2 separate regions of the Homo sapiens genome follow, and region 2 is linked to region 1. Evidence: fine-mapped expression QTL. A gene starts in region 1. The other region holds a variant in brackets. All regions are shown on one strand. Distances are between the middles of the regions.

Region 1 (5,387 bases):
CATGGGTCAATTAATATAAAGAGGTTAATAAAGTTCAACAGAGATAAACATTAGCTGTAACTAATAAAGTCTGCATTCATTGGGTGAATTGATTTATTTACACAATGCCTTTATTCTCAATGGAGTTTATGTGCTAGGTTCTATGCAATGACTCCAATGTCAGAGTCTTGGTCCAATAGAACATACTGTACATAAGTAACTGCAGTACAAAGGAGGCAGTGGCCAATACCCTGAGAAATAAAGAAATACAGTGCTAGGGGTTTCTGACATGGATTTCAAAAAGCTCTCTAGCAACGCTGAGCACCCACAGCAAAATGCTTGCCTTTCTTTGTATTATCCAATTTGGCTGCCGCATTAGCCAGAGTTCATTGGGTAATTGCACAATCCCTTGTGAGGCTTTTATCTTAAAGGCTTACCCTTGGGGAACTAGAGTGCCTCAGATATCTGGTGCACAGAGCAAACTATAGAAAAGCAGAAAGGATCTTTGATTCTGGAGTACACAGGAAATGCTAACGATGCCCAAGGTAACCATCATGTACTCATGTACACAGCAATGAGTACACTGAAAAAATATATCATCTTTCCTCCAAAATGGAGGCTGCTCATGTGATCCCAGGTGGATAGGAGGCAGAGTGATATAATGAATGAAAGCATGTGCTTTTGAGTTAAAAGGGACCTGGGTTTAAGTTTCAACTCTGCCTTTTAGTCTCTTTTATTACTGCAGCCGTCTGAGCTTCAAACTCTCATCTGCCAAAGGAGCACTGGAGTGAGTATTGATGAAAAAAAAATGGATGTTAAGTGATTAACTTGGTGCCCAACACATGTGAAGAGTTCAGTCAGTACTAGCTAACAATCACAATAAGATTTGTGACAATAATGTACAAAACTCAGATAATTAAACAGGAGCCTTCTTTATGGTCAAGTGAAAGAAGATGGGGCCATTTCATCTGGAGAAGAGCCAACCAGAAACACATGAACAATTCTATTTATTTTTATTACACAAGTAGTACACATTCATGGTAAAAAAAAATTACAATGTAATACAAGCTGAAATAAACTTAAATAATGAACTTTACCACCAACCAGACATAGCTAAAATTTTGCATATATGGTTTTTTTATCTTTCTTGAAATATATACAAATATTTTTGAACAAAAATGAGCACACTTATAATGCTGTTTGTATCTTGCTTTTTTCTTATTTCGTGTCATGATCACCTTTCTTTGCCAACTAACAACATCAATGTCATCATTTAACTGGATACAGAATAGCCAATTATATAAACATTATGAAATTTGTTTAACCAATTTCCCACAATAGCTATTATTTAAGTTGTAAGAAAGGACCATGTGCCCTGGGCTCAACCAGATTGGACCAGTTCTGGTTCCACCTGGGAAAGATCCTATGTTCTCTTGGTCTCATCTTTACCATCTTTAAAATAAGAATTACATCCTCCAGTTCTTAAGGCTAGTATGTGGATCAAATGAACTGATGCCTGTAAACATGTTTTGTAAATAGTAAAGTACTATGTGAATGTTTACATTCATTAAAGAAGGTACTAAACAGGTGTTCTCCACTGAGTCAAAACAAGAAGAAATTAGATTAACATGCTGTTGGTCTCATTGGGATGATTCCTAGCCTGTAGCAGGCTGAGTGCAACAGCAAATGCTTCAGTGTGGTTTAGGCGCTGTGGCTCTGTTTTCAGTCCCTGATGGGAGAAACCAGAACGCAGCCCTGGCATAAACTCTATCCACTTTCCTCCTGAGGATATGAGGTCCAGAGAAGGTAAATGCCATGTCTATGTGGCTCCTGAAAGCCAGAGTGAGCCACCTTCTGCCTCCAAATCCAATCCCATCGATCTTCGCTGTGCCCACAGTGTGTTAGTGAACTGGCCAGCTATTAAATGCCCACCTTGTGTTTAATCTTGAAGAGTTTTAAAAGGAAGCCTGGCTGCCTTGGTAGATTCTAGCAGATATGGGCGTGATTCAGATACATTTAGAACACACTTGAGCCTCAACTTCTCTAACTTTTAACCACCGAAGCACTGGAAACAAATCCATCTCTTTAAAACATTAGTAAATCGAAACACAAGTAGATTCTTATCTCAAGAGTTTATGTGGCTGAGTAGATGATAGAAATTTCTAGAAGTCTTATGTTTCCCACAAATTATTTTATAATTTGCATTATTTATGTAGTGTTGAAAGGGAGATTTGGTTGGCTTGCCTTAAATTATACCTCCCTTTCTCCTAATACATATTACTCTCAGGTATATTTCAGAGACAGAAAAATATTTTGAATGACCTAGGTCATCTGTTTTTATGCTGACCACCCATTAGAACCACCTGAGAAGTTTCTGGAAAACAAGATAAAATACTGCAGATGACTCACTGATCTCCAAAAGTTAAGCTTCAGTTATTCTAGGGGTAATTTTCTAATCTCCTCAGAGTCGGGTGATTCTGGCCAGATGTGCAGCCAGGGTTGAGAAACACTGATTAGGGTCCCAGTGGGGTAAGGAACAGATTATATGCTCATGATCTCACATACTCTTTCATTCTCATTGTGCCTCTGAGCAAAACCATTGAAATATATGTGCTCAGATTTAACTTCTTCTACCCCTAAAACAAGACACTGAATGGAAAAAATATATCTTATATAATAGAAGGACCCAAACTATGAAAAAGAGGATAACAGCCAAAAATGGAGGAAGTATAGTAAAGTTCCTCAATGCAATAATATGCAGCAGCTTTAATTTATGATTACAAAGAATTCACAGCAACATGGAAAAACCATAGACTGATATGGAGGAAATGAATACAAACTTGTCCATAGTGTAGGGACGCAACTATGAAAACTAAAGTTATATGTGCATACACACACACACACACACACTCACACACACACACACACACACACACACACACACACACACACACACACACACACAAAGGGACGATCCCCAAAATATCAATAGAGGCTATTTTGGTGGAGAATTTGGCTTCTTTCAACATTTTTATACTTCCACAGTATTTTTTAAACTACCATGTACATGATAGGAAAATAACATTTATAGTAGAACAAAACAAATTTACTTTTAAAAAATTACTCCTCTGACTATTATGTGATCATCAAGTCATGATGCTCAACACTGAATTAACAAAACAAAGATTAAAATGCCCACCTGAAGGTCTCTGTCTTTCAGCTGCCCTGGCTTCTGCTGCCTCTATCTCTCCTGCCTTTCTCCTCCGAGTAATTCAGGTTGCTCATTTCAAAGAAAAGTGAAAGAGCAAATTATATTTATGAACAGTGCCAACCAATAGCAAGCAAGTCAGGAAGTGTAGCAGGTCATCTGTGCTTTTTAGAAGCCATTGTAGATGTTAGTGCAAGCTCCCTTCTCAAGAAGGGTGAAAATTTCCAGTTAGGGGCTATGTCTAAAAAGAAGAAACCTAAAATTGCCCTGCCCCTCTAATGACTGGTTTTTTGTCATTATCTTTCTCAAGAGATCAAGCGGATATGATGGGTTAGAGTCAGGAATTTTAAGTGGCTTTTAGTTCTCCTAAATGGTTTCTGTTTCCATGGCAACAGAAATAGCAACATTGCCTTACACACATAGCACTTTAGACTTTTTTAAAGCACTTCCCTCACTCACTTGCATTTTCAGCTCACTTGCACTCAGGCAGAGACCTTATCCAGTCTGCTGAAAATGTTCTGTCAGAGGTCACCAAAAACCTCCTTGTTGCTTACATAAAAAATCCTTTCTCAGTCCTCACCTTCCTTCCCCTCTTGTTTGCATAGTTGACCATTGCCACTTTCCTGAAACTTTTCCCTTTTTTCTCTGACTTTCCTGGTTCTTTTTCTACCCCTCAGATTGCTCTTCTTTGCCTCTCTTTCTGATGCCTCTTCTTCCACCCCTTTTCTACGTGTGAGCTTTCCCCAGAGGTCTGTGTTCTGACTTCTTCCCTCCTTCTCTTGCTTTTACCTATCTGATCCACAATCATGGCCAAATTTAATGTGGCCCAGGTGGAGCTTTTCTCTTCCTCTCTTAGTCCTGCATCCCCCCATCTACCCTGTCTAAGCAAATGGCACCACAATAATTTAGCCAGTTCATCCATCCATAAACCTAGAAGTCACTTTTAACTTCCCTCTTTCTTCCACCACCCACTTCTGAGCCAACAAGTTCCATTTGTTCTGCCCATAAAATATGTTCCAAATCGAACCATTACTCATCTCTCCATCACTGTTCAAATCCTCGTTTCCTGCATAGAAAGCTGCAGTAACATTAAGCAAGAAAAATAAGTAAAAGGGATCCAAATTGGAAATAAATAAGTAAAATTTTGTCTGTTTGCAAATGATAAAATCTTATATGTAGAAAAACCTGAAGATACCATGCACACACACACACACAAAACCCCAATAGAACTAATAAGCAAGCAAATTGAGCAAAGTTGCAGGACAGGAAATCAATACACAAAAATCAGTTGCATTTATATACACTAACAATAAACAATCCAAAAATGGAAACTAAGGAAACTATTCCATTTATAATAGCATCAAAATGAATAAAATACTTTGGATATATACTCAGTAGTAAGGTTACTGAATCTTGTTGAGATCTCTGCACTCTCATGTTTACTGTAGCACTATTCACAATAGCCAAAATATGGATCACCCGAAATGTTCATCAACAGAAAGATGGATGAAAAATGTGGTATATATTCACAATTGAATACTATTTACTGATTTAAAAAGAACAAAATTTGTCATTTGTGGCAACATGGATGAGCTTGGGAGACATTATGTTAAGTGAACTAAGCCAGGCATAGAAAGATAAATACTGCATGTTCTCACTCACATGTGGAAGCTAAAAAATTTGATCCTATAGAAGTGGAGAGTAGAATAGTGGTTACTAGGGGCTGGGAAGAGTACTTTCTAGGGGTGAGGGTGAGTGGTTTTCTGTGCAGCTTCTTCATGCAGCTGTGGAGAAGGGGCTGGGACCAAGGTTGCTCCTCTGAAGACAAGGTTCTTCCTGGGTCTGGGATTCTATTTCTAGTATTTTATTTATCCCAATTAGAACTCACAGTACACAAATGTTATATTACCATTCTCATCTTTAGGGGGCAAAAAGCTTGAAACAACATTTCATTCTACAAGCAGTCACTATAGATATTCATTCTTCTCCAATAAAAGCCCAATTGGCCAGGCGCAGTGACCTCACGCCTGTAATCCCAGCACTTTGGGAGGCCAAAGTGGGCAGATCACGAGGTCGGGAGTTGGAGACCAGCCTAGCCAATATGGTGAAACCCTGTCTCTACTAAAAATACAAAAATTAGCCAGGCATGGTGGCACGCGCCAGTAGTCCCAGCTACTTGGGAGGCTGAGGCAGGAAAATC
Region 2 (5,387 bases), 43 kb before region 1:
AATTTCAGAACCTGTTATTGGTCTATTCAGGGATTCAACTTCTTTCTGATTTAGTCTTGGGAGGGTATATGTGTCCAGGAATTTATCCATTTCTTCTAGATTTTCTAGTTTATTTGCTTAGAGGTGTGTATAGTATTCTCTGATGGTAGTTTGTATTTCTGTTGGATCAGTGGTGATATCCCCTTTATTATTTTTTATTGCATCTATTTGATTCTTCTCTCTTTTCTTCTTTATTAGTCTTGCTAGCAGTCTATCAATTTTGTTGATCTTTTCAAAAAGCCAGCTCCTGGATTCATTGATTTTTTTTAAGGGTTTTTGTGTCTCTATTTCCTTCAGTTTTACTTTGATCTTAGTTATTTCTTGCCTTCTGCTAGCTTTTGAATGTGTTTGCTCTTGCATCTCTAGTTCTTTTAATTGTGATGTTAGGGTGTAAATTTTAGATCTTTCCTGCCTTCTCTTGTGTGCATTTAGTGCTATAAATTTCCCTCTACACACTGCTTTAAATTGTCCCAGAGATTCTGGTGTGTTGTGTCTTTGCTCTCATTGGTTTCAAAGAACATCTTTATTTCTGCCTTCATTTTGTTATGTACCCAGTAGTCATTCAGGAACAGATTGTTCAGTTTCCACGTAGTTGCGAAGTTTTGAGTAAGTTTAACCCTGAATTCTAGTTTGATTGCACTGTGGTCTGAGAGACAGTTTGTTATAATTTCTGTTCTTTTATATTTGCTGAGGAGTGCTTTACTTCCAACTATGTGGTAAACTTTGGAATAAGTGTGATGTGGTGCTGAGAAGAATGTATATTCTGTTGACTTGGGGTGGAGAGTTCTGTAGATGTCTATTAGGTTCACTTTGCGCAGAGCTGAGTTCAACTCCTGGATATCCTGGTTAACTTTCTGTCTTGTTGATCTGTCTAATGTTGACAGTGGGGTGTTAAAGTCTCCCATTATTATTGTGTGGGAGTCTAAGTCTCTTTGTAGGTCTCTAAGGACTTGCTTTATGAATCTGGGTGCTCCTGTATTGGGTGCATATATATTTAGGATAGTTAGCTCTTCTTGTTGAGTCGATCCCTTTACCATTATGTAGCAGCCTTCTTTGTCTCTTTTGATCTTTGTTGGTTTAAAGTCTGCTTTATCAGAGACTAGGATTGCAACCCCTGCTTTTTTTTGTTTTCCATTTGCTTGGTAGATCTTCCTCCATCCCTTTATTTTGAGCCTATGTGTGTTTCTGCATGTGAGGTGGGTCTCCTGAATACAGCACGCTGATGGGTCTTGACTCTTTATCTGATTTGCCAGTCTGTGTCTTTTAATTAGAGCACTTAGCCCATTTACATTTGAGGTTAATATTGTTATGTGTGAATTTGATCTTGTTATTATGATGTTAGCTGGTTATTTTGCTTGTTAGTTGATGCAGTTTCTTCCTAGCATTGATGGTCTTTACAATTTGGCATGTTTTTGCAGTGGCTGGAACTGGTTGTTCCTTTCCATGTTTAGTGCTTCCTTCAGGAGCTCTTGTAAGGCAGGCTTGGTGGTGACAAAATCTCTCAGCATTTGCTTGTCTGTAAAGGATTTTATTTCTCCTTCACTTATGAAGCTTAGTTTGGCTGGATATGAAATTCTGGGTTGAAAATTCTTTTCTTTAAGAATGTTGAAAATTGGCCCCCACTCTCTTCTGGCTTGTAGAGTTTCTGCCAAGGGATCTGCTGTTAGTCTGATGGGCTTCCCTTTGTGGGTAACCCTACCTTTCTCTCTGGGTGCCTTTAACATTTTTTCCTTCATTTCAACTTTGGTGAATCTGACAATTATGTGTCTTGGAGTTGCTCTTCTCGAGGAGTATCTTAGTGGTGTTCTCTGTATTTCCTGAATTTCAATGTTGGCCTGCCTCGCTAGGTTGGGGAAGTTCTCCTGGATAATATCCTGAAGAGTGTTTTCCAACTTGGTTCCATTCTCCCCGTCACTTGCAGGTACACCAATCAGACGTAGTTTTGGTCTTTTCACATAGTCCTCCCATATTTCTTGGAGGCTTTTTTCATTTCTTTTTACTTTTTTCTCTCTATGCTTCTCTTCTTGCTTCATTTCACTCATTTGATCTTAAATCACTGATAACCTTTCTTCCACTTGATCAAATCAGCTACTGAAGCTTGTGCATGCGTCACATAGTTCTTGTGCTGTGGTTTTCAGCTCCATCAGGTCATTTAAGGACTTCTCTACACAGTTTATTCTAGTTAGCTATTTGTCTAATCTTTTTTCAAGGTTTTTAGCTTCTTTGTGATGGGTTAGAACATCCTCCTTTAACTTGGAGAAGTTTGTTATTACCAATGGTCTAAAGCCTTCTTCTCTCAACTCTTCAAAGTCATTCTCCGTCCAGCTTTGTTCCGTTGCTGGCAAGGAGCTGCATTCCTTTGGAGGAGAAGAGGCGCTCTGATTTTTAGAATTTTCAGCTTTTCTGCTCTGGTTTCTCCCCATCTTTGTGGTTTTATCTACCTTTGGTCTTTTATGATGGTGA[C/T]GTACAGATGGGGTATTGGTGTGGATGTCCTTTCTGTTTGTTAGTTTTCCTTCTAACAGTCAGGACCCTCAGCTGCAGGTCTGTTGGAATTTGCTGGAGGTCCACTCCAGACCCTGTTTGCCTGAGTATCACCAGTGGAAGCGGCAGAACAGCAAATATAGAAGAACGGCAAATGTTGCTGCCTGATCCTTCCTCTGGAAGCTTCATCTCAGAGGGTCACCCAGCTGTATGAGGTGTCAGTCGGCCCCTACTGGGAGGTTTTTCCCAGTTAGGCTACTCGGGGGTCAGGGACCCACTTGAGGAGGCAGTCTGTCCATTCTCAGATCTCAAACTCCGTGCTGGGAGAAGTACTACTCTCTTCAAAGCTGTCAGACAGGGACGTTTAAGTCTGCAGAAGTTTCTGCTGCCTTTTGTTCAGCTATGCCCTGCCCCCAGAGGTGGAGTCTACAAAGGCAGACAGGCCTCCTTGAGCTGTGGTGGGCTCCACCCAGTTAGAGCTTCCCAACTGCTTTGTTTACCTACTCAAGCCTCAGCAATGGTGGATGCCCCTCCCCAAGCCTGGCTGCCACCTTGCAGTTCAATCTCAGACTGTTATGCTAGCAGTGAGCGAGGCTCCGTGGGCGTGGGACCCTCCGAGCCGGGCGTGGGACCCTCCGAGCCATGTGCGGGATATAATCTCCTGGTGTGCCGTTTGCTAAGGCAGTTGGAAAAGCACAGTATTAGGGTGGGAGTGTCCCAATTTTCCAGGTACCATCTGTCATGGCTTCCCTTTGCTAGGAAAGGGAATTCCCTGACCCCTTGTGCTTCCTGGGTGACGCGATGCTCCGCCCTGCTCCATGGGCTGCACCCACTGTCTGACAAGCCCCAGTGAGATGAACCCAGTACCTCAGTTGGAAATGCAGAAATCACCCGTCTTCCACGTTGCTCACACTGGGATCTGCAGATTGGAGCTCTTCCTATTCAGCCATCTTGGAACCTAGTTTTCCCTAGAATGTAAAATTATAAAATTTTTAGGAAAAAAATTTTTGGGATCTAGGACTGACAAAGAGTTCTTAGAATTGACACCAAAAACATGATCCATAAAAGAAAAAATTGATAAATTGGAGCTTGTCAAGATGATAAATTTTTGCTCCACAAAATACTCTGCTAAGAGGATGAAAATACAAGCTACAGACTGGGAGAGAATATTTGCAAATCACTTATCAAAACAGGGTTATTTAGAATATATAAAGAACTCTTGAATATCAACAGTAAAACAAGCAAACAAATGAAAAACTCCAATTAGAAAATGTGCAAAAGATAGAAACAAACATTTCAGGGGATATACAGATAGCATATAAGCACATAAAAAATTGTTCAACATTGTTGGTCATTAGGGAAATGCAAATTAAAACCACAGTGAGGTATTACTACATACTTATTAGAATGGCTAAATAAAACATAGCGACTACATCAAATACAGAGAAACTGGATCACTCAGACATTGCTGGTGAGAGTGTAAAATGATACGGTCATTCTGGAAAACAATTTGGCTGTTTCCTAAAAAACTATACATGCAACTACCATGCATTCCAGTAATTATACTCCTGGGCATTTATCCCAGGGAAATGAAAACATATGGTTACATAAAAACCTATAAGTCAGTGATTACTGCAGTTTTATTTGTAATAGCCCCAAACTGGAAATAACTCAGATAGCCTTCAATAGTTAAACAGTGGTACATGCATACCATGGAATTCTGCTCAGCAATGAAAGGAGTGAACCATTAATACATTTGGTAACTTGAATAAATCTCTAGGGAGCTATGCTATGTGAAAATAAAAACTAATCATACAGAGTGATCCCATTTATATAACATCCTTGAATGACAAAATTATAGAAATGGAGAACACAGATTTGTAATTGCCGGGGATTAAGAATGTGGTGGGGGTTGGAGGGAAGTAGAGGTAGCTAAAGAGTGGAGTTTGAGGCATCCTTATGGTGACAAAAATGTTCTACATCATAACTGTATTAATGTCAATATTTGGGCTGTGCAGGAGTTTGAGATGAGCCTAGGCAACATAGTGAGACCTGAGACCCTATCTCTATGAGAGAGAGAGAGAGAAAGAGAGAGAGAGAGAAAGAAAGAAAGAAAGAATAAAGAGAAAGGAAAAAGAAAGGGAAAGAAAGAGAAAAAAGAGAAAGAAAAGAAAAAGAGAGAGAAAGAAAGAAGAAAGAGAAGAAGGAAAGAAGGAAAAAAAGAAAAGGAAAAAAAAAGAAAATGAAAAAGATTAGCTGGGCGTGGTGGCGCATGCCTGTAGTCCCAGCTCCTCAGGAGGCTGAGATGAGAGGATCATTTGAACCCAGGAGATCAAGGCTGAAGTGAACTGTGATCACACAGTTGCACTCCAGCCTGGGTGATGGAGTGAGACTCTGACAAAAAAAAAAAAAAAAAAAAAAAAAATGCCAGGTTCTGATATACCATGGTCTTGCAAGATGTTACCATTGCGGGAAGGGGTACAAGAGATTTTTCTATTTTTTTTTTACATGTGCATGGGAATTTTTAATTATCTCCAAATGGAGGGGAAAAAAAGGTGTGGCTTGAACAGAATACCCTGCAATTTTGATTGCAAAATTCCATCTACAAACTGCTCAGTGGTGCTTGTGTTTAGGAAAACACTTAGGTTTTCACTTAGGGAAGCTCCCCTTCCTCTCCATTCCCCCACAACCTACCTATGCTGTCTCTGTACACCTGAAGAGGTGATCCCCAGGAAGATGACAGAAGGCTTTCAAAAGCCTTGTTGCAATTAGTAATAAAGCCAACTTGTTCCATTACAGGAGGGTTTCTGGTGGTCTTGGGCTCTGAAGGATTGACAAAAATGGAGTTTCACAAGATTCTTCAAAAG

Evidence for each region. PIP is the estimated chance that this variant, and not a neighbour inherited with it, causes the effect.
Region 2: its variant is fine-mapped to the expression of CYSLTR2 in whole blood (TOPMed, PIP 0.93).

Annotation. Positions count from the first base shown.
Region 1 is chr13:48,651,809-48,657,195 of GRCh38, reverse strand. CYSLTR2 (cysteinyl leukotriene receptor 2) reads right to left here and starts at 3,267. Exons shown (of 5, transcript NM_001308476.3): 1 at 3,179-3,267.
Region 2 is chr13:48,694,627-48,700,013 of GRCh38, reverse strand. It overlaps CYSLTR2 (cysteinyl leukotriene receptor 2), which reads right to left. Exons shown (of 5, transcript NM_001308476.3): 4 at 3,388-3,488. Among named protein-coding and RNA genes, the nearest start is that of CYSLTR2, 43 kb to the right of the region's middle. The variant C/T (reference allele first, on the strand shown) is at 2,503.